2 linked regions of the Homo sapiens genome follow. The protein of the gene in region 2 purifies or fractionates together with the protein of the main gene of each other region. This does not show direct contact. Each region holds a gene or a part of one and is shown on either strand. Other genes may lie near its edges.

Region 1 (3,824 bases), on a different chromosome or scaffold from region 2:
ACTTCTGGCTTGCAGGGTTTCTACTGAGAAATCTGCTGTGAATCTGATAGGTTTTCCTTTATAGGTTACCTGATGCTTTTGCCTCACAGGTCTTAAGATTCTTTCCTTCATCTTGACTTTAGATAACCTGATGACCATGTGCCTAGGTGATGATCTTTTTGTGATCAATTTCCTGGGTGTTCTTTGAGCTTTTTGTATTTGGATATCTAGATCTCTAGCAAGACCAGGGAAGTTTTCCTTGATTATTCCCTCAAATAAATTTTCTAGACTTTAAGATTTCTCTTCTTCCTCAGAAGCACCATTATTCTCATGTTTGGTCATTTCACGTAATCCCAAATTTCTTGGAGGCTTTGTTCATTTTTTTTAATTAGTTTTTGTCTCTGTCAAGTTGGGTTAATTCAAAAGCCTTGTCTTCAAGCTCTAAAGCTATTTCTTCTACTTGTTTGATCCTGTTGTTAAAACTTTCCAGTGTATTTTGCATTTCTCTAAATGTGTCTTTCATTTCCAGAAGTTGTGACTGTCTTTTCTTTATGATATCTGTTTCTCTAGAGACTTCATCCATATCCTGTATTGTTGTTTCAATGTCTTTAAATTGGTTTTCACCTTTTCCTGGTGCCTCCTTGAGTAGCTGAATAATGAACCTTCTGAATTCTTTTTCTGGCAATTCAGATTTCATCTTGGTTTGAGTCCGTTGCTAGAGAGCCAGTGTGATCTTATGGGAGTGTTTTAGAACCTTGTTTTATCATATTACCAGAATTACTTTTCTGTTTCCTTCTCATTTAGGTAGACTGTTTCAGTGGAAACATCTGGAACTCAAGGGCTGCTGTTCAGGTTCTTTTGTCCCATGGGGTGATCCCTTGATGTGTTGCTCTCCCCCTTTCTCTAGGGATGGGGCTTCCTGAGAGCCAGACTGCAGTGGTAATTATTGCCCTTCTGGGTCTAGCCACCCAGTGGGGCTGCTGGGCTCCAGGCTGGTGCTGGGGAATGTCTGTAAAGAGTCCTGTGATATGATCCATCTTCAGGTCTCCCAGTCTTGGATACCAGCACCTGCTCCAGTGGAGGTGGCATGGGAGTGAAGTGGACTCTGGGAGTCCTTGGTTGTAGTTTTGTTTAGTGCAGTGGTTTTCTCAAATGCTGGTTACACCAGCAGTAAAATTGCCACATGGACAGACTCAGGACCTCTGGTTAGCCAGGATGTTGCAGGCAGTGGCATTAGCTGTTGTTTGCTCCTTTGAAGCAAGGTTGTTCTGTTATGAGTTGCTGTAATGGCTTGAGTTGGTTGGCCTCCAGCCGGGAGGTGGTGCTTTCAGGAAAGCGCCAGCTGCAGTAGTAGAAGGGGATATAATTCTGCCCTACATTGGCCAGGATGAGTACTCGGGTTTCTTAGGCAATGGACAGGACCACAGAACTTCCAAAAGATTATGTCTTTTTTCTTCAGCTACCAGGGCAGGTAGAGACAAACCATCAGGTGGGGGCAGGGTTAGGCGAGTCTGAGCTCAGACTCTCCTTGGGCAGGGCTTCATGTTAGTTTCTTTATTTAGGGCTGATGAGAAGGCGGTGCAGAAAGGTAGCTCGTGCAAGTCTTTGAGGTAAAAAGTGGTGGAGCTGGAATTCAAATCCACCCCTACACCCACACATGTAAGCACTTTGGGGAATCTGCCCAGTGAGTTTAAAATACAATTCCATTTGCTCTGGTTCTATTAAATTCCCCTGGCCAATATGCACTGATAGGCCAGGAGCAGGAAAGGCATTCCTACTGTCTCTGAGCCTCCCTGCAAGCAGCTTGAGGAATATATACCTGGCCTGTGGGTCTCAGCAAGTTCCCCAACCCTAGAGGCCCTTCAAACCACGCAGGGAAGGAGAGCTTTGGCGGGATGTGGCCAAAACTGACTCAAGCCTGGTGTACAGACAATTTGGGATGGCACGGAGTTTTTGTCATCCACTGGGAAGTTGCTTAATCTTCCTCCAGTCCAACACATTTCCCCTTTTTAAATTCTAGTTAAAAATCAGACTGTGCCCCCTACCCTCAATAAAAGAAATGAAAGTTTGAACTCAAATATTATGAGGCAGGCCAGGCACGGTGGCTCATGCCTGTAATCGCAGCACTTTGGGAGGCCAAGGCGGGTGGGTTACCTGAGGTCACAAGTTCAAGACCAGCCTGGCCAACATGGTGAAACCTCATCTCTACTAAAAATACAAAAATTAGCCAGGCATGGTAGTGAGCGCCTATAATCCCAGCTACTTGGGAGGCTGAGGCAGGAGAATCACTTGAACCTGGGAGGCAGAGGTTGCAGTGAGCTGAGATTGCACCAGTGAACTCCAGCCTGGGCAGCAAGAGCAAGACTCCATCTTGGAAAAAAAAAAAAAGAAAAAGAAATATTATGAAGCAGACCAGACACAGTGGCTCACGCATGTAATCTCAGCATTTTGGGAGGCAAAGCCAGGTGGATCACTTGAGGCCAAGAGTTCGAGACCAGCCTGGCGAACATAGTGAAATCCCACCTGTACTAAAAATACAAAAATTAGAGCCGGGTGTGGTGGCACACACCTGTAGTTCCAGCCATTCGGGAGGCTGAGGCATGAGAATTGCTTGAGCCCAGGAGGTGGGGATTGCAGTGAGCCAAGATCATGCCACTGCACTCCAGCCTGGGTGACAGAGCAAGACTCTGTCTCAAAAAAAAAAGAGAGAGAGAGAAATATTATGGAGCAGTACAGAAATAGACAGTGGAGTGATGTTGACCAGGGGATGGGGCAGGGGGATGTGGGGAATTTTCATACAATGGGTGTAAAGTTGCAGTTATACAGATGAGTAACTTCTGGAGGTATGTTGTACAACATAGTGCCTGTAGTTAATAGGAAGATATTTACTTCAAAATGTGTTCAGAGGGCAGATCTCATGTTATATCCTTACCTCCCCACTGCCCCCCCCAAAAATAGACACAAGCAAACTTTATGTTTGTTACTGGATTGTAGTGACAGTAACATGAGTGTATGCATATGCCCAAACTCACTAAATTACATCCATTATGTGCGGCTTTCTGCAAACGAGTTATACGTCAATAAAGCTAGGGCAAAGAGGGAAAAAATGCAACCAGAAAGAAAAGACGTTGCCTACAGAGAAACTACAGTTAAACTGACAGGTTTGTCCGTATCAAAAATAGAAGCCAGATGACAATGGAACAAAATGTTTAGCAGATAACAGGCACTCGGCAAATGAGCAATAAACCTTGCTACACCTCTCAAAAAAAATGTTATGGAGAGATAATCAATCACTCTCTCAGTGTTTGTTTTCCTTTCTCCTGGAGTGCAGTGTTACTCACTCCCAAGTCCCTAGGGCCCTAGAGAAAGTTCTCCTGGGAAAATTAAAGAGAGACAGAAACAGAAAGCTGTCACATGGGAAAACAATTCTAATGTTTTTGTTTCTCCAATGAGGAAAGTAACAGAGAAGCAGATTTTGCTAAAGAATTAGTACTTCTTAACATTCCAGGTTTTCCCCAAGACAGAAAGGGAGGGTGGGAGGCAGTGGGTTCCTGTCCTGGGACGTGTTCACCGAGAGCCTGGACATCACGTGGTAGAAATGTCCCAGAGGCCATAAGGAAATGCCTGTCCGATGGCCTTGCAGCATCCTCCAGGGCTCTGAGAGGTACTCTAGGATGAGGCACTGGCCCTTTGCTGGGTGACTGTCTCTGACCAGGTAATAGGACTCTGAGAGAAGCCCAGGGGAGTTAGCAAGAGCCACACAGCCCAAAGCACTGCAATGCTCTATAGAACAGCAATCCTGAAATGTGGACTTTGTCACCACCCTTGGGTCACAGCCACTCCTC
Region 2 (3,824 bases):
GGTAGAGAAGGTCACTTGACTAACTGAATATGGTTTTTCATCAATAGTGTCTGACACAGTGTGGGACTGTTCCTACTGCCGTGAAAGGTTCTGATGTTCCATGCATCATCAGGAAGGATTTCTCCAATAGTACAGGTGTTTCCTCTTGATCCACATGTATTCTTTGGCCTGGAATGCCAGGTGACAATTTGTACTTGTTTGAGATAAGCTACTGTTAGTAGATTTGAAGAGAATAAAAATATCACTACCATGCAACTATTAGGCCAAGTTTAACAGAGTGAACAAGCCAGGTTTATTATTTGATTAAAGCAAATATAATGAAAGCAGGCCTTTTAGATGCAAACTATCCTTTGCATATCTTGCCATAGAATATAAAACACACTGAATTAACCCTATAAGAAATTTGAAGAAAAATCATATGAAATTAACATAAGCTTTGGTAACTGAATAATCTTTAATAATAATACATGCAATTCAAATGGCACTTATTTGATAATTATCATTCATAATTATCACAATTTGAAGTAAAAACAGAAAACATATTTAGTAGTAATTACAACTAAAACACACACCCACCTACAGCAGAGGCAGCTCTTATCTTATTCCTGACATATGTATGGCTTGCTGGGTTATCTCCCACTAAAATTATACTGAGGTGAGGTCTTCTGTTTCCAAGGGAAACCCATGATTCCACACCTCGCTGTATTTCTTTCTGGATATGCTTGGCCATTTCGGTTCCTGATATAATAATGGCTTCATGTCTGTGGAAAGCAAAACAATAAATACTAAAAAGAAAATAAGAAACACTCAACTGCACAAATTTAAGGTACAAAACTCAATAAAACCACCATGATTCTCCAAGCACCCAAAATTTGATTTTTTTTTCAATTATAGTGACACCTACTCTTCAGGTTCATAAATATTTTATAATTTTGTGAAGGATTCCAACTCTGTTATTTAGTTCTACAGTATAATCTATCTGCTATAAAATGAATGTGTATGTCTCTTCAAAATTCCTATGTTGAAATCCTAACCCCAAATGTTATGGTATTAGGAGGTAGGTCCTTTGGGTGGTGATTACACCATGAGGATAGAGCCCTCATAAGTGGTATTAGTGTCCTTTTAAGAAATTCCAGAGATCTCCCTTGTGCCTTCTGCCATGTGAGGACATAGCACGAAGACAGCTATCTATTAACCAAAAAGCAGGCCCACACCAGACACTGAACCTTCTGGTGTACTGACCTTGGACTTCCCAGTCTACAAAACTATAAGAAATTCATTTGTTTTTGTATAAGCCAACCAGTGTACAGTATTCTGTTATAGCAGCTCAAATAGACTAAGATGCTAACGACAGTGTACATTTCTTCACAACTTTCACATACATATATAAAACATATATATTATATACACATATGCATACATATGTATATACATATACACACATTTATGTATTCATATAAATTATCAAACCACATACTCAAGATCTGGACTATAATATTGCCTAAATTTAAAGTTCTGCTATTTTTTCTAAAGAGGCAGATCAATCAGCACAGCCTAGTTAAAACTGGCAACCATCTTGAAGACTGGACTCCACTATGTATACACGTAGCCCCACAATCTTGTGACCCTAAGGCGAAATCAGTTCGTTTTTGGTTAGCATATCCAGCACAAGACTCTGAAGTCATGAGCTTCATACTACACAACTCTTTTAACTTACTCAAAGAAAAATGTTATTCCATGGCCCCAGGCATGGCCCCGGACAACAGCTGTGAGTCTTGCCATGCTTGTCACTGATTATGGTGGGGATCAGGTCAGTAAACCGATAGTTTAGTTCCTTCCCAATGCAATGGCATCATTTCTAATGGAGTAAGTTTCCACAGAAGATTACTTCCTGGCAGTTTATAAGTATTTCAGAAGGTAAGAAGTGCCATAATTTGATAGATGATATAAACTATCTCTGGAAAGGCACAAAGAAATACTTTCTAGAAAGGCTTTTCTGCTCTCCATGACCTCAAACTTGAAAGTGGTGAATTACATTGCTCTTACTGTGTGTTTATTTTTTTAAAGGTATCTGATAAAGTAGAAGGTGGTCCCTTCTTCCTTCTGCCCCTGTCCTTTCATTATTGAATGGCCCGGTAAAAACATGATTACTACAAAAAACATCAAATGTAGGTAAATAAATATTATGAAAAGGAGGAAAAGGGAAAGAGTAAGAAGCAGAAGAGAAAGAGGAGGAGGAAAGGAAGCCCTTATAAACCTTAATTCTTTGTGGTATCTGTACACTTTTAATTTTCTAATGAGGGCGGGTGCTATAAATATCCGACAACACACAAAATGCAAACTTTGTGCTCCTTCCAAATAAGTCAACTGCTCTCTCTAGCAGGTTTGTGGACGTATAGGTAGAACTTGATCGAAAATACACCATTATAGCATGGCACCAGTCTTCCACTGCATTCATCTCAGTTCATGCAATTTTGATGTAAACAATGTTCTGCTAAGAAGCAATTCCAAGCGTGGTCTATGGATACACACATCAAAAACTGCCTGAAATTGCAGATTCCCAGACCCCACAATCCACATCTACAATTCAGAATTCCTGGGGGCAGGGGAAAAACCTGGAAATCTGCATGTCTAATAATTTCCTACATGTGATTCTTGTGTATGACCATGTTTGAAAACCACTTTAGTTTACCATAAAAGTGTATTTTAATAACAATCATAATTTATGAGTAAATAACTGAGCAAATTGGTTAGACAATACAATCACAACTAGACATTCTAAGTAAACTCTACTTTTGATTCTAATTTTGTCTACTCTTCATTAAAATTTTAATAGCTTTCAAGACATGAAATGTCATGATGAATTCAATATAATAATCTTGTTCTGCTGTCTTATTTCTGTAAAAGATTTATTCAGTATAATTGTCATATAATAAACTGGACATATTTAACATGTACAAGTTTAAGTTTTAATATATGTATATACCTGAGAAACCATCACTATAGTCAAGAAAATGAACATGTCTATCATTCCCAAAACTTTCCAGGTGCACCTTTAAAATTTTGCCATTCCACCTGTCTCTGCCAGATTCCACTCCTCAATTCACCATTCCAGGCAACCATTGACCTCTTTTGTTCAGTATATATTGGTTTGTATTATGAATAATTTTATAAAAATTGAATCAAATACTACATACTCTTTTTTGGCCAGCTATTTCCACTCAGCATAATTATTTTTTAATTGATTCACATAGTTGCATGTTTGAATGGTTCATTTCTTTTTTATTGCTGAGTAGTATTACATTGTATGGATATACCAATATTTGTTTATCCATTCGATTGTAATTAATGGATATTCGGGTTCTTTCCAGTTTTTGATCATGACAAATACAGCTGTTACAAACATTTTATAACACATATGCTTTAATATATTTTGTACACATATGCTTTAAAATATTTTTTTTGTGGGGGACAGGGTCTCCATCACCCAGGCTGCAGTTCAGTGGCAAGATCTCGGCTCACTACAACCTCCGCCTCCTGGGTTCAAATGATTCTGATGCCTCAGCCTCCAGAGTAGCTGGAATTACAGACATATGCCACCATGCCTGACTAATTTTTGTATATTTAGTAGAGACGGGGTTTCGCTATGTTGGCCAGGCTGGTCTCGAACTCCTGGCTGCAAGTGATCTGCCCCTCTTGGCCTCCCAAAATGCTGGGACTACAGGTGTGAGCCACCACTCCTGGCCGCTTTAATTTCTTTTGAGCAAATATCTCAAAGGGGAATGGCTAGGTCACATCGTAAGTGTATGTTTAAATACGTTAAA

The links.
Region 1: the proteins of MTHFD2L (region 2) and ZHX2 purify together in Homo sapiens (affinity purification with mass spectrometry; one large-scale study listed by BioGRID and IntAct). This does not show direct contact.

What each region holds. Positions count from the first base shown.
Region 1 is NC_000008.11:122,966,488-122,970,311, forward strand, and holds part of ZHX2 (zinc fingers and homeoboxes protein 2), read left to right. Parts: intron 1-3,824. UniProt on the Homo sapiens protein: Acts as a transcriptional repressor. Represses the promoter activity of the CDC25C gene stimulated by NFYA.
Region 2 is NC_000004.12:74,171,443-74,175,266, reverse strand, and holds part of MTHFD2L (bifunctional methylenetetrahydrofolate dehydrogenase/cyclohydrolase 2, mitochondrial), read right to left. Parts: intron 3,490-3,824; exon of another isoform or gene 1,783-3,489; coding exon of another isoform or gene 1,718-1,782; intron 762-1,717; coding exon 577-761; intron 1-576. UniProt on the Homo sapiens protein: Bifunctional mitochondrial folate-interconverting enzyme that has both NAD/NADP-dependent methylenetetrahydrofolate dehydrogenase and methenyltetrahydrofolate cyclohydrolase activities.